Linked DNA regions of Homo sapiens. The protein of the gene in region 3 purifies or fractionates together with the protein of the main gene of each other region. This does not show direct contact. Each region holds a gene or a part of one and is shown on either strand. Other genes may lie near its edges. The genes, in order: ZNF644, ACAD11, MIER2, PEX14, PHLDB3, EHMT1 and TFDP1.

Region 1 (3,500 bases), on a different chromosome or scaffold from region 3:
AATACTTAAAAAAAAAAAGGAGTTCACTCACATTAAAGCTGGAATTAAGACTAACAACTGTAGCTTATCATACATAATAAGGATAGTAAAAAATAACCACAAAGAAGCAAAGTATTCTAATGATTGCGTTGTAAAAGACATCAGATTTTAAGCAGTCTGCTATCAATCTAGACTTAATGAACCTAATATTTAGTAATGGCTTTTATTTTCTTTTTATTTACAGGCTATGCTGATGTTAGTTTGTAGCAAACTATAAAGAAATTTACCATAAGGAAATATTTATCCTAAAAAAATAGTATGAAGGGAAAAAAAGGCAAATAATCTGATTATTCAATATTAAATAACTTTGACTGTAATACCTAAAACACAAAGGTATGTTAATTGATGGAACTGATGGACTTAACAGTAAAAAATAAAAATCTTCACATATATTCTCCAACAGAACTTAAGTTGTAATGAAGGTGATATTTCAAACCTTTGAGCACTCTCACAATTTAAAAAATGCCCAGTAAAATAAATACCACTTTCCACCAATTAGACTAGCAAGGATAAAACAAATATTTAGCAGAATGTGGGAAAACAGATATTCTCATAAACTAGCAATAAGAGTATTAAGTGGTACAACCTCATTGCAGTTTTATTACATCAGAAGTTAAAGGGCACATATCCTTGATCCAGCAATCTACTGCTACAAATTATCCTGACACTCTCACACACTCCCGTTAATACCATCAAAAATATTTATTGCAGCAGTACTTATATACAGGCAAAAAATCCTGAGACTTACCTAAATATTAATAAGGTAACAGTTATAATAAATGTGGTAAATATATGGAAAAATGTCCAAAATATATTGATAAGCAGAAAGAAAAAGATGTAGAATACATACCAGCTATTTTTGGTAACTTATGGGGAGTATAGTGCTGGGTGGGAGAGAAGAGTTTTACTTTTTACTTTAAACATTGCTGTACTATTTGCTCATAAGGTCACATGTGACTTTTATAAAAAATTTATATTTTGAAAATACTAAATGTGGCCAGGTGCAGTGGCTCACGCCTATCATCCCAGCACTTTGGGAGGCTGAGGCCGGTGGATCGCCTGAGGTCAGGAGTTTGAGACCAGCGTGGCCAACACAGTGAAACCCCATCTCTACTAAAAATACTAAAATTAGCCAGGTGTGGTGGCATGCACCTATAGTCCCAGCTACTCAGGAGGCTGAGGCAGGAGAAACGCATGAACTCAGGAGGCGGAGGTTGCAGGGAGCCAAAATAGTGCCATTGCACTCCAGCCTGGGCAACAAGAGCAAAACTTTGTCTTAAAAAAAAAAAAAAAAGTGAAATACTAAATACTAACTGTTACTTGGCAATACAGCTGGAAAGGGTCAATGTACGTTGTACAATCTCATCTAGAATGAAGGACAAAGAATTTTATTAATTAAAAAGTCTTCTTTTTCATGCTACAACAAAGGGCAGCACATCTACAATGCTACTAAAGAAACTGAAGTACAGAGAGGTTAAGTTAGAAATTAGAGAAATTAATCTAAGACAAATATCCATAAAGAATTTCAAATCCTTGGATTCGGGGATTCTGCAGTCTTAGCAGCAGCTGCCTATGTTAAATATTGAAGCACAAAATGAAGACGAAGACTCTGCAACGGAGGTACAGCTAGCAGCCTCTGAGAAGAAAAATTAGTCTAAAGTCTTTGTGGAGACATGTAAGTTAGGCAATCTCAAGGTTAAATTTCTCTGGCTCCTCAACTCTAACCAACAACATGACTAAACACACTTCACAATCAGGATTTAAAAAAAAAAAAAAAGAACCAAGGTCTATATACGGTAAGAATCTATGTCTAAGAAAACCCTTGTGGGAAGACAGAAGGAACAGCATGAGAAAATGTCAACGTCTAACTCTGTGTTCAAACATTATGGCAGAAGCTGCAGAAAGGAAAAGCAACAAATTGATCCCTGTGGGGAAGAACCTCTTCTTGCTTTGGACTTGCTAGAGGGCAATCAAGCTTCAGGCATAAAAATCTCCAGATGATTACTATAGCCAACCCAACTAGCCAAATTTCAAACACAGAAAAAAAAAGAACCACTAGTCAAAATGCTTTAAAATTTAAGAAGTGTGTTATTTCTTAAGAGAGTATATTGTTTAGGCCAGGTGCAGTGGCTCACACCTGTAATCCCAGCACTTCGGAAGGCTAAGGAGGGTGGGTCACCTGAGGTCAGGAGTTCGAGACTAGCCTGACGAACATAGTGAAACCCCATCTCTACTTAAAAAATACAAATTTAGCTGGGTGTGGTGTCGCATGCCTGTAATCCCAGCTACTTGGGAGGCTGAGGCAGGAGAATTGCTTGAACCTGGGAGGCAGAGGTTGCAGTGAGCTGAGACTGTGCCATTGCATTCCCACCTGGGCAACAAGAGCGAAACTCCATCTCAAAAACAAAACAAAAAAAGTATATAGTTTATATATGCTACATTACATATCTACAATTTAAAAAAATTTAAGTACCTTTAAACAAATAGCAAGCTTCCTAAGCTGTGGGAATCAAAAATGTTATCACAGTTCCAGGCTATGATTCTACAATTTCTTCCTCCATCCTAACAGTTTTTTACCTTCAGAGAAATAAGGAAAAGTTTTCTTCACTTCTTACACGTGTGACTAGTGTTCCCAATCTTCTACTTGTATTAGTCTAACATTCCAAAATCTTTAAAGAAATAACTAGTACAAACCCACAAAGAAAATACTCTTCATAGCAAACACTTCAAATTTCTGCAACATGGATTAATACCTCCACTTGGAAATACTAATCAAAATCAACAATGACAGTCTTACTTTAGGTCTGAATTAAGAATATTTTACTAGCCACTGTATTTCAACTGGATTGAATGAAGACTTGGGAAATATTTTATTTCTCTTTCTAAAATGTCTATAATGCTGTCTGTGGATTATCCTCAGTGGCTCCTTCCTATGGCCCAACAGCAACTCAAGTGCCAATGCCCCCATCCCATTCCAGCTAGCATTCTGAATCTCTATTTGCCTGGGAGAACTCTTTTCATTGGTCAATGTTTAACAAAACATTTACTGAATGCACACAGTATTCCCAGCACTGTGCTAAGATAAACGAGACATGGATGGTATCTACCTTCAAACTCATACTCTAATAAAGAAGACAAACTACGGCCAGGCATGGCTTAAAGGATCAGATGATGCTTCAGATAGGCTATTTCAGAAGATAAGCTGACAACTAGCAAAGAGGTCTCTGGCAACTGGGGAGGCATGGGATTGAGGGAAAGTGACAACATGTACCTAGGACTAGAACTAGGAATATGAAACATCATACTTAGTTTATTCATATAATCCTCAGCATTCTGGCATAGCTACGGTGAGATAACTGCATGCCGTGTTATAAGGTTTACTACATTTTATTCTGAAAGTGATGGGGGACAATTAAAGAGACAGGTAGAAGAAGGAAAAGAGTATAAAAAAGTTAGCAAGT
Region 2 (3,500 bases), on a different chromosome or scaffold from region 3:
ATGGTGCTGGGATAACTTGCTAGCCATCTGCAGGGGATTGAAACTGCGCACCTTCCTTACATCTTAGCCATTTTTTTGACGTTTAATTGTCCTTTTATTTTCCTTTCTTTTCTTCTTTATTATTTTAAGTTCCGGGATACAAGTGCAAAATGTGTAGGTTTGTTACATAGGTATACAGGTGCCATGGTGGTTTGCTACACTTATCTACACGTCATCTAGGTTGTAAGCCCTGCATGCATTAGCTATTTGTCCTAATGCTCTCCCTCTCCTTGCCCCCACCCTCCAACTGGCCCCGGTGTGTGTTGTTCCCCTCCCCATGTCCATGTGTTCTTATTGTTCATCTCCCCACTTATGAGTGAGAACATGCACACCTTGGCCATTTTTATGCTTGGTCATGTTTGCCCTTCAACAGGGGATATTTGATTAGAGTTTCCCTAAAGCGGTGATGTTCAACATGATAGCTACTAACCATATGTGGCTAATGAGCATTTGAAACATACCTAGTCTGAACTGAGATGTACTATAAGTATAAAATATGCACCCCATATTGAAGAATAAATATTAAAATATAAAGTATCTCATTAATAATTTTTATATTGATTTCATGTTGAAATAGTATTTTTGATATATTGGGTTAAATAAAATATATTATTAAAATTAATTCCATCTTTTTCTTTTCACTTTTTAAAAATGTTGCTATTAGAACATTTAAAATAACATTTAAGGTTCATAGTATATTTCTTTTGGATGGCACTGCCCTAGAGGTTGAAACATGGCTCTGAATTAATTTCAAACAAGTTGCTGGTGGTGAATAAATATTTTTTGATGGCTGTAAAACAGGATAATTACAACTTTATAACTTCATGAACAGACTTAGAAGACATTTACTTCTCAGCTTTAGAATAAAGGAGGTATTCTCAGTTGGGTCTCTATAGACCCTAGATTTGCTGAAAAGCATTAAATGGGTAGAAACTAGGTGCTCTAGGGAACTGCCAAATATATTTCCTAAGACAGAACTGGGATGGAGAATTTTTTGCGTTACAGCCTGGAGTAAATTAGAAGGCAGCTGGAAGGAGCCTCCAAATTCAAAGAAATGAAATGTTCCTTTCACAAATTAAAATAAAAAAGCTGGCCCAGATTTTTGCTTATGACATGCTCACACATCTTTTTGTTTCTGCCAGATCACGTTATTTGTGCCAGATGTGAAAAGTTTCCAGTGAAAACAGGCATATTTGTTAAAAAGCCAGGCTTGCTCTGCATGACACATTAACTTTAAAAGGTGGAAGGGAAATTTTTTACTAATGCAGTATTAAAACACCACTCAGGAAAGCAGCACTTGCACAGAGGGCTTTTGTGCATTCGCGATGCTTGTTTGTCGACTTTACTGTGTCCTCCCTTCACCCTGCTCCAGAGTTTGCATGCAAGCTTGACAAAAGGGTAAGAAGTAATGGTTGGTGCCCTGAGCACCTCTTCATCCTTCTTCAACAGCATCAGAGGCTGTATCCAGGGCCCCAGAGGGTCACACTTTCTCACCTCCTCCCACAGTGCCCAGCCAACAGCTGAACTTTGCTGTATACTAAAAACTTGCCTTCGCTGTATACTAAAAGGGCTCCTGACAAATTATTCCCAGGTGTAGTGTCATAAAGCGGGCTGTAGCTTTTCAGTTAAAAAACTATACAAATAAATCATATAATGCTGAATAATACTTTACAAAAAGCAAACATAGATTATAATAATTTAAGGTAAAAAATACATACTGCAAATTTCATAAGATGGTCAAAAATGTATAAGGAGACCGACATACTAAAATATACATGTGCAGCAAACACAAATACAATTCCATCACCACAGATTTGACCTAACACTAACATGTTAGCAATAATAAAGAGTGAACATTTAATAATAGTTTTTCTTGCCTTCTTAAAACTTAGAAGGGAGATGATGTGGATATCCTACTTCTCTGTAGAAGACTTTTTAAGGAAGTCTGAAATAATACCTTCTATTTCATCTCAATACATATTTCCTAATTTTTTTTCTTTTTCTGGAGACAGAGTCTCGCTCTGTCGCCAGGCTGGAGTGCAGTGGCACGATCTTGGCTGAACGCAACCTCTGTCTCCCGGGTTCAAGCAATACTCCTGCCTCAGCCTCCCCAGTAGCTGGGACTACAGGTGCACATCGCCATGCCTGGTTAATTTTTTTTGTTTTTTTTTGTATTTTAGTAGAGACGGGGTTTCACCATGTTGCCCAGGCTGGTCTTGAACTCCTGAGCTCAGGCAACCCACCCGCCTCGGTCTCCCAAAGTGCTGGGATTACAGGTGTGAGCCACTGCGCCTGGCCATATTTCCTAATTTTTATTATATGGGCCACATGTAACTATGTTTACAGTGATTTGTAACAACAGACTCAGTAGTATATAATTTACAGATGATAATTCAAAAAGTCATGAATATCTCACAAAATGTTGGTCCCATTTCTACTTGTGTTTCTCCAGTGACAGAATTCAAGTCCTCCTGAAGAAGCTGATTCCACTTTTAGGTTTATTAGCATGTTTCTCCTTTCCCTGAGTTTTGGGCTGTTTTCCTGTAACTTTACACTTATGTGTCCTAATTCCTTCTAGGAAACCAATGGACAAGGCAAATCCTTCTTCCTTATGACAGCTCCTTCATGTCCACAGGGAGCTCTAATGTTCCAGGTTCTCTAAAGAACAAGAATCTGAGAAAGTTGAAGGAACTGTCTACACTCTTGTGTGCAGAGGTGTTGAAGCATTTTAGGAACTATTTAATTTTTCATAAAGATAAATACCTCTCATTAGACTATATTTAAATACAGACATAAATATGCCTTATTGAAAAGAATCACCCGGTTCATGTAGAGAAAGTCTGTCTCTCACAAGTAATGTTTTTGTTCAATGTTAGTGTAGTGCACCGGGCTACAATAAATTCAAATAAGTAATCGTCCTCACATGTGCATACAACTTCTTCTTGAAAGCTATCCTTTGTGTTGCCCGCTCACACATGATCTGCAAAGCGCGTTCCGCCAAACCTACTGTTCTCATACAGTGGTGGATTCTGCCAGGTCCAAGGCGGCCTTGGGAAATTTCAAATCCCCTACCTTCACCTGGGAAGAAAGGGGAAAAAAAGGGGGAATGTGAAAATGGCCTAGCCCATTCCTTTTGTTATTTATACAAATCCTGGGAAAGAGATGAGCTGCCCTTAATAAAAATGGCTTTCTAGTGAAAAAAAGTCAGTTCTATAATAAGGTTCACTATGAATTCATGGGAATTTTGATTTCTATGTTTTTAAAACCACCACCATTAAACATTTCAAATTTCAGAACTGTCTCTTAAGTATGTACTATGCATAAGCTATTTTATTAATGCTGCAATAGATACAAAGTTGGAATAACACATAGTCCCTGTACTAGGAGTTTAGAATCCAGAAGAGTGGGTAAGGGTAAGAGATACAGAGAGAAACAAAGGCAAAGGAAGAAGAGATTTTCTG
Region 3 (3,500 bases):
ACAAAATCAATACATAAAAATCAATTTTATTTCTATATAAAAGCAACAAATACAAAAAGAACAATTCCATTTACAATAGCATCAAGGGAAGTGTGAAATGTGTACAGTACTCTGAGTGAACAAAGCAGTGTTGAAAGGAAGATCCAAGGGAATGTAAAGGCATCCCACGTTCATGGCTGAGAAGACAACATTAAGACGGCAACACCCCCCACTGATTGACAAATTCAACACCATGTCTATCAGAACCCCAGTTGGCTTCTTTGTAGAAACCCACGAGCCGATTTCAAAAGCATATGGAAGCTCAAGGTACCCCAAACAGCCCAAACAATCTTGAAACAATACTTCCTGATTTCAAAATTCACCACAGAGCCACAGCAATCAAAACAGTGTGGTACTGCCATAAGGACAGCACAAAGATCAACGAACTAGAACTGAGAATCCAGAAATACAGTCACACATTCATAGTCAACTGGATTTCCACAAAGGTATCAAAACAGTTCCATGAAGGAATGAACAGTCTTTAACAAATGGTACTGGGACAGTTGAATATCCATGTGCAAAAGAATGAAGTTGGACCCCTATCTCATACCATATGCAAAAATTACCTCAAAATGGATCAAAGGCCTTAAATATAAGAGCCAAAACCACACAACTTTTCGGAGAAAATATATGGATAAATATTTGTAACCTTTTGATTGAATCTAAAAATGTGGTGGGAAAAAAGTTTGTGACCTTGGATTTGGCAATGGTTTCTTAGATAAGACACCAAAATCACAAGTGACCAAAAAAAAAAAAAAAAACCAAATGGATAAACAACTTCACCAAAATTAAAAACTTTTGTGCTTCAAAGGACGCCCCCAAGAAAGTGAAAGGACAACTGAGAGAATAGGAGAAAATATCTGAAAAATAATCTATCTGATAAGGAACTTCTTCTCAGTATAAAGAACGTTTAAAACTCAATAAGGAAGAGAGAATCCCATTGAAAAATAGGCAAAGGATCTGAACAGACATTTCTCCAAAGAGGACAGACAAATGGCCAATAAGCACAGGAAAAGATACTCAATGTAATATCAGGCAAAAGCAAGCAAAGTCCACACTACGATACCACTTCCTAATCAGAGAATAAAAACTGTGCTCAAAAAGACAGTAACAAGTGTTGACAAGAACGTGGACAAAGTGGAACTCTCCTGTGCCCTGCCGGTGGGAATGTCAAAATAGTGCAGCCACTTTGGAAAATAGTCCAGCAATTCCTCCAAAAGTTAAATAGTATTTAACCATGTGACCCAGGTCAGGGTCCTAATATCCATCAGCTGACAAAAACAAAACAAAGCACTAGCAACGGGGCAAAGAAGGACGCACTGACACACTACCACATGGACGCACCTCGAAAGACTCATGCTCCTGAAACAGCCAGACACAAAAGGCCACGTGTCGTATGACTCATTTAATCTCAAATGTCTAGAGCAGGCAAATTCGTAGAGACAGAAAATGGATTCCTGGTGGAAAGGGGCTGGGAGTTGATCTGGGGTTTGGGGAGTGACCACTAAGGGGTGTGGGGTTCCTTTTGGGGTGATGAAAATGTTTTAAAATTGACTGTGATGGTGGCTGCACAACTGGGTGAATACACTAACAACCACTGAACTGGACACATTAAAACGGTGAACTGCATGGTAAATGAATTATACCTCGGGAAAGCTGCTGCCAAAAAGGGTAGATTAAAATATTTAATGAAGTTTAAAAACTTGTGTAGTAAGAATTTCAATACTTCTTCACGGGTCCTCAAGAAAAAACCTCACAGGTGGTATAATCATTCCCCTCACAAAAAAACAAGGAAACAAGCTCAAAGAGATAGAGTCAGTTACCCAAGCTCACACAGCAGGTTCAGTGGTGCAGTTACAAAGTGGAGCTCAGGCCAGCGGCTTGCAAACACCTTCCAGCCCATCACACTACTGGGGAACACAACGGCTAGTACAGTTGACCCTTGAACAACGCAGGGGTTACGGGTGCCAACCCTCCACACAGGTGAAAACCCATGCATGACTTCTGACTCCCCGACACTTGATTAATAGCCTCCTGCTGGTCGGGAGCACTGCCGATAACATCAACAGTTGATAAACACATATTTTATATATTGTATTATGTACTGTATTCTCACAAAAAAAGTAAACTACAGAAAAAGTTATTAAGAAAATTGTAAGAAAGAGAAAGTGTATTTACTATTCATTAAGTGGAAGTGGATCATCCTAAAGGTCTTCGTCCTCATCATCTTCACGTTGAGTAGGCTGAGGAGGAAGAGGAGGGGTTGGTCTTCCTGTCTCGGGGTGGCAGAGATGGAAGGAAATCCATGTATAAGTGACCCATGCAGTTCAAACCCGTGAGGTTCAAGGGCCAACTGTACAGCAACGTACAGCAAAGCCACGGAAGGGAGCTGGGGCAGCCACTGGCCCTGGAGTGACTCTGGCAACAAGGCTGCCAAGGACCAAGGAGCACCTCAAGCTCTAAGTGGAGACTGACAGGACCCATCCAGCTTTAGAAAGTTTAGCTCCGTGGTGGCAGAGGGCAAACAGAAGACAGAGGGAAGGAAGAGCCAGCAGGGCCCCCAGGGGGAAGGGGCCACGGGACTGGAAGCAAGCAGCACAGAGTGCATGGCAGCTGCAGGGGCATCTCACGCCTCCTGCCCTGGGGTTGGCCTGGGTCTGGCAGAGATGGCCTCACCTCTTTCCAGGACACAGCAGGTGGCCACCAGCCCACAACCACTCTACACAGCCACACGCGGTGTGAAGCCACAGGGAAAGCATCCTAAGTGACCTCTGAAATCACCCTCAGCCCCCTCTAGGACCCTCTGGGTAGGGGTCGAGGACAGGTTCTCTGGGCAACGGTTCCTGCCTCAGTCAGGGGCTGGCTTTCTACTCCCGCAACCAGGAGCCTGACTAACAAGGGGATGGCAGGCGACCACATCAAATGAGGCCCCAGTCTGGACGGCAAGTTGACAACAGTCCCGCAGGCTTGAGATCCACACCGAGTAACAGGGAGTTAACATATGGCCCCAGGAGAGGTGGTCTGCAGGGTCTGAGGAGGATCTGGCCCTTATATGACGTGCCATTTAACAGGAGAGCTAAGGCAGAGGGGGGCAAAGAGGGAAGCGGCTGGGAACGGCAGAAAGGGCCGCTAACAGGGAGGCCCTGAGCAGCCTGGGATCCCCAAGTTCATTTCCAGGCGACTCTGAGTTCCTGGAACTTACCACGGAATACAGACTTCATGGATCTTCTTCCTCCCGCTGCCCCTGCCTGGTGTCCAGGTGCAAGTCTACTCTCAAAGCAGGTTCCCAGGGACTCTACTTCACTCACTCAGAACACTCTGCATGTTTCCCTCTGAGTTCACTCCCAGGAAAGACAAAGTCCTCTGTTTTGTCAAAGTGGAAGCAGGAAAAAGAGGGGGAGCAGGCCAACGGTATTCCAGGCAACAAAAAAAGCAAAGGAAGCGTAAACAGCATTCTAGAA
Region 4 (3,154 bases), on a different chromosome or scaffold from region 3:
ATTAGCCGGGAGTGGTGGCGGGCGCCTGTAATCCCAGCTACTCGGGAGGCTGAGGCAGGAGAATGGCGTGAACCCGGGAGGCAGAGGTTGCAGTGAGCCGAGATCGTGCCACTGCACTGCAGCCTGGGCAACAGAGCGAGACTCCATCTCAAAAAAAAATAAAAATAAAAATAAATAAAACCAGGACAGTCCCAGGCAAAGCAGGACAAGTTGGTCACCCTACCTCTGAGGCTGCATTGGTGACAATGTGCTGTCGCTACAGAGGGACAACAGGGGGACAACCAAGAAGCCGGGGGGCAGGGCCTGCTTCTGCCCACGTCTTCAGTTGTGGAACCCTTCCAAGTACAAAACACAAAGACTCTCCCGCAGGGGCTTTCCCTGGGACAAAGCTGTCACTGAGTGGTCACCTGGAGCTCAGGAAGGAGGAGCCAAACCAGGAAGTTCTCCTCTGCTCCAAGGGCCCTGCTTTTTGGCTCAAGCTGTCCCTGACCAGGTCTTCACAGGCCTGGGAACTGTATTTCAAAACTTGTGTGCCACAGACCGTCACCTCTGGAGTGGAGAGGGTGTCAACTGGGGAATGAAGAGAGAAGCTCAAAAGGCCCCAGACTCAGTGCCTGAGTCGCCCAGACAGATGGGGTCCTTGGGGGTGGGGGTGGGCGTCATGCCCCTCCCATGCCCCAGAGCTCCCAGTCCTCCTTTCCAGGCCCGACCAGAACAGGGTCCCCATTCCTCCCTCCTACCGATTTAAAAGAAGCCCTTTCAAGGAGTTAATTTCGGACTTGAGTTCGTTGATATTCTGGGACTCCAGGATCCAGTTGGTGGATGTGGTGGCCTGAAAGCAGAGCACAGGGAGGCTCAGGGCGGGCGCCTTGCGGCACGGGCGGGGCCTGCGGCTGCAGGAGGACCTGGGTGGGGGCAGCAGGTGGGGCCTTCTGGGTCTGTTCTGGGGAACCCGGGGGAAGGTTCTGCCACTGCCCACTGCCTGCCACGTCTCTGGATGACAACATCCTTAAACATTCCCACAGCTCTGTTTGGACATCTGATGACGTAAGGAATCATTACGTGTTTTTAGGTGACATAATGGTATCGTGGGCGTCTTTTAGAGACATGCGGAGGCGTGCGGGTGCGGTATGAAGTGGGATGATGTCTGGGATTTAAGATGGTCCGGGGTGGAAAGAGGAAACAGCCACCATCTCTGACAAACCCCATCCTTCCATGCACACCTTTCCCCTTTGAAGGTAACACTGTTTTCCAAATAAACTTCACAGAACTACATCTTACTTCTGGAAAATCTTGCTGGTATAGACGGGGAAGAGGACAGCCAAACCAGAGGTCCCCAAATGCGAGCTGCTGGTGGCAACCTGCTTGTGGCATGTGCACAGAGGACAATGCCACGAGGCCTCCGTGTGAGGTCTACCTCGCCCAGGCTGAAGGCCACCCCAGGCCATCTTTAAGTGCACAGATGAATATTGCCAGCTCTCCTGATACTGCTCCCCCGAGGTGGGCAGAGGGGACGTTCCCTGGCTGTTCCCTACCAGTGTGCTGTGGGCCGCTGGCTGGCTTACAGAGGCCTGGCCTCTGACGTGGGGTCGGGGGCTGCTGTGGGCTCACCCCAGCAAGCAGTCCAGCTGGCACACCTTAGCAGGGAGAAGTCCTTCAGAGGGCCTGTAGGTCTCAGGAAGGAAAACCCGGGCAGTCTGAGAGTGAGTGCGTGTCACCCACCACCCCCAGACACAGCCCCTCAGGGTTCCTACTCCAGACCGCCAGACAGGGAGGACCCAGGAGCCACGGCTCTGGCTTCTCTGAGACCTTGAAAGCTACAGCAGCCCATGAACAAGGGCACAATTTCCACTCACTGGCCTACAAGGGACTCAGATTTCCAAACGCATATGGTGCCAGATGCCAGGATTTAGAAATAAAATCTGACATCTGGGGCTTTTTAGCCAGCCTCTTTAAAAAACAGTTGTAGAAAACTCATAGCCTTCAGTTTTATGTAGGTTTTTTAATTACTTAAAGCTCTTCTTTTTAATTTTTTACAGTGCTCCAGTAGGAGTTTGGAAGCCAGATATAAAAACTTACATTACAGCTGAGAAAACACAGCTCTGGGTCTTTGGTTTATGGGGTAACCAAAGTCCTCACACATACGCGTTTAGATGCCAAGCCAGTGGCCCCATGCAGCTCGGGAGAGAAGGCTGGGGTGGGCCAGGGACAGCGGCAGCAAAGCCAGCTCGAGGGACTCTGAGGGGCCCAACCCCTCTCACCACCAAGCACATCCCGGGCCCCCACTGCTTCTTAAACACAACATGTGGTCTTAATCTCAGGCGTAAGGCCTGAAAACAGTTTTCCAATTTCCGGAATGGCTTCTGGCCACAGGCAGAGCATGGATCCAAAAGATGACCTGACCCAGGAGAGCAGGCAGGGCTGTCGCTGGGCTTCCTGGTGCTTTAGGGACCGGCCACCCGTGGAGAACACGCATTGCAGTGGCTGGAGGTGGTCACCAGTACCCACAGCCATCCCAGGAGGAAGAGCAGGTGGCACCTCTGTGTGTGGTTTGGATATCCAGGGGGGAGATTCCTGGGACCCTCTTCACAAGAGACACCCCAGACTCCATGGAAAGATTGTCATTTTCATGGTTTTTGCAAATGCAAAAGATCTGAGTGCTGGCTCAAGCCAACTCGTACGCTAGGAGTGGCTTTCCCTGGGTAAGCAACTCGGGATGGGACTCTCCAGAGCCCAGGCTGTGGGGGCAGACAGGGAGCAGTGTCCGCCGGCCACAGAGCTGTGGGACAAGGGACAGAGAGAGGAGCCAGTGGGTGTTCTGGAGCTACCAGGCCACTGTCTCCTGGGCCCGGTCTGTCTGATACCGCCTCAGGGATGACCTCTGTTACCCACCCACAGAACCTAGGCCTGCAATCCTGCGAGCTGGCTGGAGCCAGGCACCCTCTTGAACCCATGAAGAGCCCCAGGAATTAGGTGCCGTTATGGCTCCATTTTACAGATGAGGAGACTAAGACTCAGAGAGGTTAAGTAACTTGCCTGTGGTCATACAGCTAACAAGTGGCAGGACCAGGATTCAGCCTGATCCTGGAAGCTGCCACGCCAAGATTTCTTCACATTTGGGCAGTGAGGCAAGGACACTGCCTTGGGAGTTGGT
Region 5 (3,072 bases), about 43 Mb from region 3:
AAGAATGAGGTGCAGCTGATTAAGGGAAGGAGGGGGGCCAGGCGTGGTGGCTCACACCTGTAATCTCAGCACCTTGGGAGGCTAAGGTGAGTGGATCGCTTAAGTCCAGGAGTTGGAGACCAGCCTGGGCAACACAGTGAGACCCCATCTCTATAAAAATAAATAGATAAAAGAAAAAAAGGGAAGAAAAGGGCAGAGGGAACAACGTAGGCAAAGGCCTAAAGGGGGGAAGCCTAGGAGTTCCTAGAAATTTCCAGCAGCCGGTCAGGCCAGAAAGGGTGGAAACAGAAGGGCCTACAAACTAAAAAAGCAAAACTGCCAAACACTAAGGGGGACATGCCTCTCACCCTCTTCTCCCAGCTATGACCTTAAGAGTTGAAGGCCTCCATTCCTAGAGAGCCGGCTGTGGGACGCGTGGCTCCCAGAGGTACCGATAACTCAGATGTCCTGCCTAGGGGTCAAGGGGCCCCGGATGCCTGGGCTGGAAACCACAGCAGCAATTCCTGTTTTTCCTCCGTATTTAATTCGGTATCACAGGAGCACCAATAAATAGTTTCTTCCCGCCCCTGCAATCTTCCTCCTGCCCCGGGCAGGGCCTTAGGGGCCGGCGATCCCGTCGGGGGCAAGGCACCTGCAACCCAGAACGCAGCAGCTCAGGCCAGCTGAACTGCCGCGCCTGCGGAATTCCCGGGAGAGTTCCAAAGCGGTGCGTCCAAGTTTTCCGGCAGTGGGCGGGGCCTAGGAACGCCCCCGCGCCCCGCGCCGGCGGAGCCTCGAAGGGACTTCCCCCCAAGAGGGCGGGGCCACTCAGGGGGCGTGGTTTTCGTCAGCGGCGGTCACGATGACGTCCATCCAAATGCGCATGGCTTCGGGGCTCGGAGCCACCATGTAGAAAAGGCGTTCGTAGGTTTTGACGCAGAAGGTCAGGCGGGGGTTGGGGCTCTGGAATAAGCAGAAAGTGAGGGTAATTCAGACAAAAGACACCGGCCACAGTCTGGGTGCGAACCCAGCCTTGCTACTTATAGTCTGTGTGGCACTGGACAAGGTACTTAAGTATCTGAATGTCAGTTTCCCTGTCTTCCCAAATGATGCCACCTACCTCACTGGGTTATAAGGATTAAATGAATTAACACAAGGAAGTGCTTAAAATTATCATATGTAGAGCGCTATTGATAAATTAGGGGCAAGATAAATTTTTTTTCTTTTTTTTTTGAAACTGAGTCTGGCTCTGTCGCCAGGCTGGAGTGCAGTGGCGCAATCTTGGCTCACTGCAACCTCCACCTCTCGAGTTCAAGCGATTCTCCTGCCTCAGCCTCCCGAGTAGCTGGGACTACAGGCGTGTGCCACCACGCCCAGCTAATTTTTGTATTTTTAGTACAGACCAGGGTTTCACAGTGTTTGTCAGGATGGTCTCGATCTCTTGACCTCGTGATCCGCCTGCTTCGGCCTCCCAGAGTGCTGGGCTTACAGGCGTGAGCCACTGTGCCAGGCCGAGAAATTTAAAAGTAGGACTTATGACGCCTTCTCTCAGCCTAACTTCTCCTATATTAGAAATACAGGCATTCAAATTCCACCTCCCCAAAATCTAGGTCCCCTTGTACCTGGGAAAAGTTAGTGTCTAGAATCCGTTATTTGAGTACCCACTTGCCAATCCCAAATTGAGTAAATCCCTTATGTCCATAATCTGTTTTTAGCCCTCTCAATAACCCTGATGGAATGGGTTGATGCGTACCCATTCTACACGTGAGAAAACTCAGGCCGGCCGGGCTGGGTGGCTCACGCCTGCAATCCCAGCACTTTGGGAGGTTGAAGCGGATTGATTGCTTGAACTCAGGAGTTCAAGACCAGCCTGGGCAACAGAGGGAGACCCCATCTCTACAAAAAAATACCAGAAAAACAAAACAAAACAAATTAGCTGGGTGTGGTGGCACACACATATAGTCCTAGCTACTCAGGAGGCTGAGGCAGGAGGATTGCTTGAGCCCGAGAGATAGAGGCTGCAGTGAGCTATGATTGTACCACTGCACTCCAGCCTGGTCTATGGAGCAAGAAAAAAAAAAAGAAAAAGAAACAAAGAAAACTAAGGCTAAAGGCTAAAGAAAGGAAGTCACTTTCCTGATGTCACATAGCTGAGATTCCAACCTAATTGCTAAAAAGCCACAGTTTGGTTATTCTCCACAGAGCTTTCTAAATATTGTATCAGTTGCCAACATTTAAATTTTTGGCACTGTGCTTTATACAAGTTCCAATTCCTGAGTTCTCTGGGAAAAAATAAATATAAGACAACACCATGGGACCCACTCCCACTTGGCAACTGTTGGCAGGAGCCAACTAACAACCATCTCCTTTATTTATTTTTCATTTAAAAAATAAAAAAAAAAAAACAGAGATGGGATCTTGCTATGTTGACCATGCTGGTCTCAAACTCCTGGCCTCCTGCAGTCCTCCCATCTTGGTCTCCCAAAATGTTGGGATTATAGGCATGAGCCACGACGCCTGGCAGATCATCTCCTTTAGATGCTCCCAGGCTGCCCGACCCTTGCTGTGACCTCTCCATTCATTTATTCCCAGTTGGACATCAGAGTCTGCCATATTTTGGCTCTAAAACTTTTGCTCCAAGAAAATTAACAGTGACAGGCCAGGTGCGGTGGCTCACGCCTGTAATCCGAGCACTTTGGGGGGCCAAGGTGGGCAGATCATGAGGTCAGGAGTTCGAGACCAGCCTGGCCAACACAGTGACACCCCATCTCAACTAAAAATACAAAAGTTAGCCAGCTGTGGTGGCACGCCTGTAATCCCAACTACTTGGGAGGCTGAGGCAGGAGAATCGCTTGAACCCGGGAGGCAGAGGTTGCAGTGAGCCAAGATGGCGCCACCGCACTCCAGCCTGGGCAACAGAGCCAGACTCCATCTAAAAAAAAAAAAAGAGCCACGTGTGGTGCGGTGGTTCACGCCTGTAATCCCAGAACTTTGAGAGGCTGAGGTGGGCAGATCATGAGGTCAGGAGTTTGAGACCAACCTGGCCAACACAGTGAAACCCCGTCTCTACTAAAAATACAAAAATTAGCCGGG
Region 6 (3,500 bases), on a different chromosome or scaffold from region 3:
TCGTACCAGCAGCGCATGCTGAGCTGGCCGCACATGCAGTTGCTGGAGGAGCAGTCGTCGATGCACACGCAGTACTGAGAAGAGAGGCGCCGGGGGGTCAGACGTGCAGGCACAGGCCTTCCATTTCCCCTCCCAGTCACAACTACGTCTTCCAGTTCTGTTAACCCTGATTCTGGTAAGTGCTTCTCAAAGGCACCACGTGAGTGTGTGGCCTCTTAGGGAGAAGGCTGTGCAGGCAGAAACATGTCGAGTGCCTGTGGGAGGGAGCTCTGGCTGAGGACCCTGACAGAGGGACAGGGGGCAGGCAGGGCAGCGACGCGGCAGTGGGTGACGTGGGGTGGGTGAAGGGCTGGGCGGCGGCTGCATTTGTGGCCAGATGCTCGATGGGAAAGGCAAGAACACAGAGCCTGACACACCTTGTGGGGCGGGGGGCGGGGGGGGGGGGGGGCCTGGGCAGTGCCCGGCCTGGGAAGAGGAGGGAGCTGCCCACAAGCAGAGCCACAAGGAAAGTGCTCGAGAAGGCGCAAGCAGTGAGGGCACCAGGCTGCATGCACTCGGAGGCTGGGAAAGCTGGCATGTGCTGGACCCATCTCTCCGGGGGCTGGGAGGTGCAGGGATCCAGGTCGTCCTGCAGGCCTCGCAAGGGCTCCTCTCGCCTGTGCCCCCAGCACGAAGCCACACCGGGGCCCCTGAGTGTGAGGTTACAAAAAAGGCACAAAGATGCCTGCCACTGCTTTGGGTCGGTAAGAAGCCTTGGAAGAGCAATGAGAGGGCCCAGGGCTGGGCCTGACAGAACCTTTATCTGCCTTCCAGCTCTTTCACGGGAGGCAACTACAAAGAGAATGAGGTCTTCCTGGGAAGCCCCCCATAAGCCCTCCTGCTCTGAGTGGTGAGAACCCAGGACCCCAGGCTCAAGAAGCTTCTGCCTGTCCCATGTCCTGGCCTGAGTCAGCCCTTCATCTGCCGTCACTCACCTGCAGATGAGTGATATTTCTGTCGATGTTCATGGGGGACGTCACGCAGTTCTGAGAGACGTACTTGTAGTTGCTGGGGCATGGCTCGCTGTCCACGGCGTTGACACAGGGGATGGGGATGCGCTCGTAGCCTCGAGCGATGTCCCTGCCATGGAAAGGACAGGTGTCACCTGGTGGCTGACGTGCTCTGCCCAGGGGGTGGCACAGCGTGCAGTGGGGCGGCTGGCAAACACCTGGCCCTGACAATTTGGACTGCAGCCTGGGGATGTTTCGGCTTCAGGAGCAGCTTTCACCGCAAGTTCCCAAAGCCCTGCTGACCGCTGATTTGCCACAAAGCCGTCCTGGGGCTGGGCTCACCTGCTCACTATCCTCTCCACGGGGCTGGGCCTGTCGGGGGCCGAGTCCTGCAGAGCCTTGCTCATCTGCAGAGCGCTCCACACCTGAGAGTTGAGGCTCGCACACTGCAGGGGCGTCTCTCCTTCCTTGTTCTTTAAGGTGACATCTGAATCCCGAGAAAGAAAGAGGCTAAAAGGGAAAATGTAAGGCCACAAAACATTTAAAGCTGACTTGAAAATGTGATACAGATGAGATTTATAAAATGTCCGTCATCACTAACAATAAAGGGAACACTATTCACTGTGAGATAACTTGAACAAGTCTGCTCAGCAATGACTCTGCAAAGACGGGCTTTAGCTCACCCAGGAACATGATTCCCTTCCTCCTCTCCCACATTCACTGTCAAAGTCAGCAGGCTGTTTTCTTAGCAGGAAGAGTGTAAAATCCAGGGCGGCATTTGATTTTTCTTGGATTTTTCATTCAAATTTACCCTCAAGGATAAGAAGGGAAGCAAGGAGGGAGAGAGGCCAAGCTTGGGCCACGCACAGCGTGAGCAGTCCTCAGTTCCACTCCTGCTCACTGCATCCAGACTGCAGTCATCGTACGTGGAGCTGGGCTTCACACAACCAGATGACCAACCTGGCTGAGCCACCGTGAGATCCACATGTGGGAGGGCACAGCCCCATGTGTAGGGGCCAGGGAGTCACTGGAGGCTGGTGCCTGGAGCACCCACAGTTCCCTGTCCTTCCCCAGCAGCCAAACACACACTCCATCCCAGGCCACCAACAACAACCTGAGTGTGGATGACTTTATGGGATCAAGGTCTCAAGCTTTTTTTGTTTTTTGGGTTTTTTTTGAGACAGAATCTCACTCTGTCGCCCAGGTTGGAGTGTAGCGTCGCAATCTCCACTCACTGCAATCTCTTGCCTCCTGGGTTCAAGCGATTCGCCTGCCTCAGCCTCTGGAGTAGCTGGGGTTACAGGCACATGCCACCATGGCCGGCTAATTTTTGTATTTTAGTAGAGATGGGGTTTCACCATGTTGGCCAGGCTAGTCTCAAACTCCTGACCTCAGGTGATCTGCCTGCCTCAGCCTCCCAAAGTGCTGGGATTACAGGCGTGAGCCACCACCACCCAGCTGAAGGTCTCAAGTTTTAAAAGGGCCCTGAGTGGCGAGTGCCACAGCCCCCAGCAACTCCAGCCCTGGCTGTGGGTGGCACTGCTCCCAGAAGGCACCCTGAGCCTCTCGGGGACTCTGAGCTGGCAGGTCCCTGCTGGGAGCAGGGCTGTTCCCATGCTGCCCCTCAGCCATGTGAGGAGTATCAGGTCTGAGACTCCAACTTGGGAATTTTTTCATGACAATCCTCCCTAACCCAGAAATAAACCACAGCTGATCTCAAACGTGGACTGGGAAAGACACTTCTCTGCGTGTGGAACACCAAGGATGGACTTCCACACGAAGGAACAGAGGGCCTGTGTCCACTCACGCCCCAAGTGTGAACACAAGACTGTCAAGCGGTCTCTCTGGGCGCCCAGGTCAGGTCAGCGCCAGCCCGCGCTGGGGGAAGCACTGCACTCACACGACACAGTCGTAGCGGTTCTCCCGGGCGGCAATGTGCAGTGGCGAGTCTCCGTGGATGTTCACGGCGTGGAGGTCGCACTTGGCAGCCAGCAGGATCTCGGCTATGTCCACGCAGCCGGAGAACGCCGCCCAGTGCAGGCAAATGTTCTCCTCCTGAACAGACACAAGCCAGAGCTCAGTGCAGGCTTCCTGCTGGCTCACAGTGCTGGGGCTGGGCCACAGCAGCTGCAGCCCATGTGCCCGGGGAGAGGCTCTGGAGCATGCGTGGCCGTCCGCAGCAGGGCCAGGTGGAAAGGGTGCCACAGGTCACCGGATGGGAACCTAGCGCCCATCTCAACTCTGGAAGGCACTTCGTTTCATGTTTTGTTTGTTTCATTGTAAAAATAACATAATTATAAAAGTAGCATAATCACAGTAAAGAATAAAAATAGGGAAAAGGTCATCCAGAATTATATCAACCTACACTCAACATATTAACACTTGGAGGCACTTTTCTTTCATGTATTTTTAAAAATTATATTCATTTCCAAGCAGGGGTATAGTCATAGGATAGGATAATGCTTTTGAAAGATTTGAAAAAAGGACGTGCAAATTTGATTAAATTAAAAT
Region 7 (3,500 bases), on a different chromosome or scaffold from region 3:
GCTGGGGGCCATTCCTCACACAGCCACGCCAGGTTGTCTGGGCATTGCTGACCTGTCACGTATGGCTCCAGAGCCTTGGGGACCAGACTTCTGGCCATTTTAAGGTCTTCGGCAGAGCAGCTCCCCGACTCCAGCCCGCAAGCCATGCCCATCCGCTTCAGCACTTCTATGTCATCGTGGATTTCAAATGTGTTGTCAAAATTAAACAGATACTCAAATCTGAAGGGGAAAGGCACAGTCAGAAAGACAGGGTCTCCCAGCGGAGACGGTACACACTGGGGTGGAGCCAGGACGGCTGACCCGCTGACCGCCACACACAGCTTCCCGGTTCCCAGTCATCAGTGTCTCCTCACAGAATTTATAAACTCTGAAGTAAATGAGATGAGAGGCAAATCGAGGCCTATTCTCCCCAGGAGGACATGCCCTAAGGCACACGCTCCCGGAACAGAGACCTTCCATCTGCCACATGGCGGCAGCCTCCCACCACCCCCCAATGGACAGCAATTTGTGCAACATTTGCTATTTGTACAACATTTAAAACTTGTCCTAGTGACAATACCAACAGGGTCGGCTCCCTAAAAAAGAGATGGGTGACCAGGGAACAGCTCCCCGCCCACAACCTACTTGTCATTGGAGATGCTGCAGTCGATGACCGTCTTCTTGCTGGTGTTGACGATGATGAAGGGCAGGTGGATGACTGAGTTGGGTGGCGGTGGCCGGCTGGCCTGCTGCTCCGCATGCCGGTTTCTCTGCACCAGGTTCTTGAAGGCAATTTGCTAAAAAAAATAAGAGGAGCCAGGTGGCCCGTGGCGGCACAAGAACGCAGCCCCTGTGCTCGAGGGGTCCTCACAGCCCTCCCTGCGTCCACGTGACAGCGAGGAGTTGGCCTGGACATCTGAAATGCCAGCGCCGGCCGCTGGGTGCTGACCTCTGCAGCCCAGGGAGAAAAGCGCTCAGGAAACGGGATCCTGAGGGGAGAACTAAGGGAAAGCGGGCGCACAGCCATCCGTGCCCTGATAAAAGTGTCCTCCACGGCAACGGCGCTCAACAAAACACCAATTTTGGAAGTCGATTCCTTGCTGTCCTTCACCCCTCTAAGACCACCTACCACCATGGCACCTACAGGGTGATGGCCTTGGAGGGGGTGCCGTGCCGTGGACTTTGCCCACCCTGGAAAGTGGAACGCAGAAGGGCCCATGTGCTGCAGGGGTGCTCCTCTGGGGGAATAGGCCCTGCAAGGCTGAATCCAGGGCCAGGGCCTCAGGGCCCCAAACCAAGTGTTCCACTTGGAGAGACCTTCTTTGCTATTAATGTAGAGCCAGGAGATTCCCTTCCTCTCCCGGCCACCCTGGGTCTATCCCCACCTGGCAGGTCCTAAGGCACTGGCAACCAGGACTGTCCCTCCTGACACTCTGTGGGTCCTGAGGAGCTCCTGCCCACGAGCCTCCATCACCACGGCTGCCACACCGTCCCCTCTGGGAGGGCTCGAGCACACCTTGGTCAGGGCAGCAGCCAGCTCTGCAGTGAGCACCTTGCACACAACCCCCTCCACACCAGACACGGGGCCCCCAGTGGTGCCGCCCACCCTCAGCACTCAATGGGAGGTGGGGAAGGCCAGCTCCAGGGCCCTGATCAGCACTGTCAAGACCCAGGTGCACTGTGTCCACCACAGTTTTACAGGCCTTGCCTGGCACCTGGGCCTTGGGTTAAGCACCTCTGAGGAGATTTTTCAAATGTTGCTTTTGCATGAAGTCATCCCTCCATCTGTCTTTTGCCTATTTAGATGCTGTGACGAGAGATACACACATACACATGTATGCACACATGCACACACACACACGCACACAGGCACATGCACGCACACACATGCACACGCACACAGGCACACGCACGCACGCACACAGGCACATGCACACACACACACATGCATGCATGCACGCACACACACATGCATGCACACGCACGTGCACAACCTCGCTCTGGGAATAAGGCCCACGTTCAACACCTATGAGATGAACTCACACTCAGAATCTTAGAGCAGTCATTTGATTTGCCATGCAGGAGTGTAACCCAAGGCAGTATGTTGCCGTTATAAAGCTAAATTAGTAAAATAAAAATTACCCTGCCTCCACAGATACGTATTCTCTTACCTGTAGAATAAGTTCTTGAAGTTGAGACTGTTTCTGTTTTATTCTTTCAAGTCTCCTCTGTCTTTCCACCTTCAAAAACAAACCACCCATGTGAAGAATCATCACAACTGTTCCACAGAGCGTTTTTTAAAACCCACATCCTCACATCCTCACAGTGTTACCTATGTTTACCCAGAATGTAATCGAAGGGATATGGACAAATCTAGACATAGCAGGTGCTACAAGATATAGGTGAGTTTTTTTTCCATTTCTAAACTATACCTTCTCCCCTTTCCTCTCATTTCTTGGATTTAACTATGGTATCTAAAAAGAAAACAAAAATCCCACAAACTAGGATTCAGAATTAACCTACACTAGAGTTTAACAGACTCTAGTGGGTCTGGGCCAACCATGCTCCCTCCCCTGACAGCCAAGACTGAGAAACGCAGGGAGACGTCTGCATGACCGTCTGCCAGCCGGACACAGAGAGCATAAGGGCACGGAGCCCAGACCCTTCTGAGTGACCGACGACTAAAACATCTACACGGACTTGAAGGGAAATCAAGGTTGAAGGAAGGCTGAAGGGGCACCTCTAAGTTCTGACATTCCTGAGCCGAGTTGGTGGGCAGACCAATCCACTTGATCTCCTTCTTCTCCTTGGAGATGATGTTCATGGCCATTAGCACGTTTAAGGCATCGTAGACGCGCCGTCTTATGTTTTTCTGGTCATAAGCCTGGGGATGACAGGGAGTGGAGTTTCCAAATGATCCAAAAAGGCCGGTGGATCCTTAAACTGTAGACCATGGGCACTGGCTCAAAGGGGCACCCCGCTCACGGAGCCGCCACCCCAACATGCCCTCAGGGAGCGCTCCCACCCCACAGATGACGCAGGGCAAGACGGGGCTGTGCGAAGCCTGAGTGTGTTCCAGAAGGAGAGCCGGGGGCTCTCGGGTGTCGAGCCCAGCTGGTGAGGTGGGCATTTGTGCATTTCTGGGCCGCTAGACGTGCAGAGCCAGCCCACGTGCTCACTCACTGGAGTTGACAAAGCATCGTGCCAGCAAATGGATCGGAAAAATTCTTTTATGCTGTACTTGGCATTTTCTGTATGGTTTTAACTGTTCCCGATATTAAAAGAGCGAAACGTACCACACCGCTGGGCTCCGCCACCCCAGCCTCTCGGCCCCGGCACACACTTACTGACTCGTTTGGTAAAAATTCTTTTATGCTGTACTTGGCATTTTCTGTATGGTTTTAACTGTTCCCGATATTAAAAGAGCGAAACGTACCACACCGCTGGGCTCCGCCACCCCAGCCTCTCGGCCCCCGGCACACACTTACTGACTCGTTTGGTAAGATGTGGTTGTCGGCAGC

The links.
Region 1: the proteins of MIER2 (region 3) and ZNF644 purify together in Homo sapiens (affinity purification with mass spectrometry; 3 studies listed by BioGRID and IntAct, with this or other methods). This does not show direct contact.
Region 2: the proteins of MIER2 (region 3) and ACAD11 purify together in Homo sapiens (affinity purification with mass spectrometry; 3 studies listed by BioGRID and IntAct, with this or other methods). This does not show direct contact.
Region 4: the proteins of MIER2 (region 3) and PEX14 purify together in Homo sapiens (affinity purification with mass spectrometry; 3 studies listed by BioGRID and IntAct, with this or other methods). This does not show direct contact.
Region 5: the proteins of MIER2 (region 3) and PHLDB3 purify together in Homo sapiens (affinity purification with mass spectrometry; 2 studies listed by BioGRID and IntAct, with this or other methods). This does not show direct contact.
Region 6: the proteins of MIER2 (region 3) and EHMT1 purify together in Homo sapiens (affinity purification with mass spectrometry; 3 studies listed by BioGRID and IntAct, with this or other methods). This does not show direct contact.
Region 7: the proteins of MIER2 (region 3) and TFDP1 purify together in Homo sapiens (affinity purification with mass spectrometry; 3 studies listed by BioGRID and IntAct, with this or other methods). This does not show direct contact.

The regions. Positions count from the first base shown.
Region 1 is NC_000001.11:90,977,036-90,980,535, forward strand, and holds part of ZNF644 (zinc finger protein 644), read right to left. Parts: intron 1-3,500.
Region 2 is NC_000003.12:132,572,810-132,576,309, forward strand, and holds part of ACAD11 (acyl-CoA dehydrogenase family member 11), read right to left. Parts: intron 3,118-3,500; coding exon 2,963-3,117; intron 1-2,962. UniProt on the Homo sapiens protein: Acyl-CoA dehydrogenase, that exhibits maximal activity towards saturated C22-CoA.
Region 3 is NC_000019.10:338,297-341,796, forward strand, and holds part of MIER2 (mesoderm induction early response protein 2), read right to left. Parts: exon of another isoform or gene 2,218-3,500; intron 1-2,217. UniProt on the Homo sapiens protein: Transcriptional repressor.
Region 4 is NC_000001.11:10,624,950-10,628,103, reverse strand, and holds part of PEX14 (peroxisomal membrane protein PEX14), read right to left. Parts: intron 833-3,154; coding exon 741-832; intron 1-740. UniProt on the Homo sapiens protein: Component of the PEX13-PEX14 docking complex, a translocon channel that specifically mediates the import of peroxisomal cargo proteins bound to PEX5 receptor.
Region 5 is NC_000019.10:43,474,603-43,477,674, forward strand, and holds the end of PHLDB3 (pleckstrin homology-like domain family B member 3), read right to left. Parts: intron 943-3,072; coding exon 808-942; 3' UTR 501-807; downstream 1-500.
Region 6 is NC_000009.12:137,811,005-137,814,504, reverse strand, and holds part of EHMT1 (histone-lysine N-methyltransferase EHMT1), read right to left. Parts: intron 3,045-3,500; coding exon 2,890-3,044; intron 1,500-2,889; coding exon 1,332-1,499; intron 1,120-1,331; coding exon 975-1,119; intron 75-974; coding exon 1-74. UniProt on the Homo sapiens protein: Histone methyltransferase that specifically mono- and dimethylates 'Lys-9' of histone H3 (H3K9me1 and H3K9me2, respectively) in euchromatin.
Region 7 is NC_000013.11:113,633,253-113,636,752, reverse strand, and holds part of TFDP1 (transcription factor Dp-1), read right to left. Parts: coding exon 3,468-3,500; intron 2,864-3,467; coding exon 2,720-2,863; intron 2,220-2,719; coding exon 2,151-2,219; intron 777-2,150; coding exon 625-776; intron 220-624; coding exon 53-219; intron 1-52. UniProt on the Homo sapiens protein: Can stimulate E2F-dependent transcription.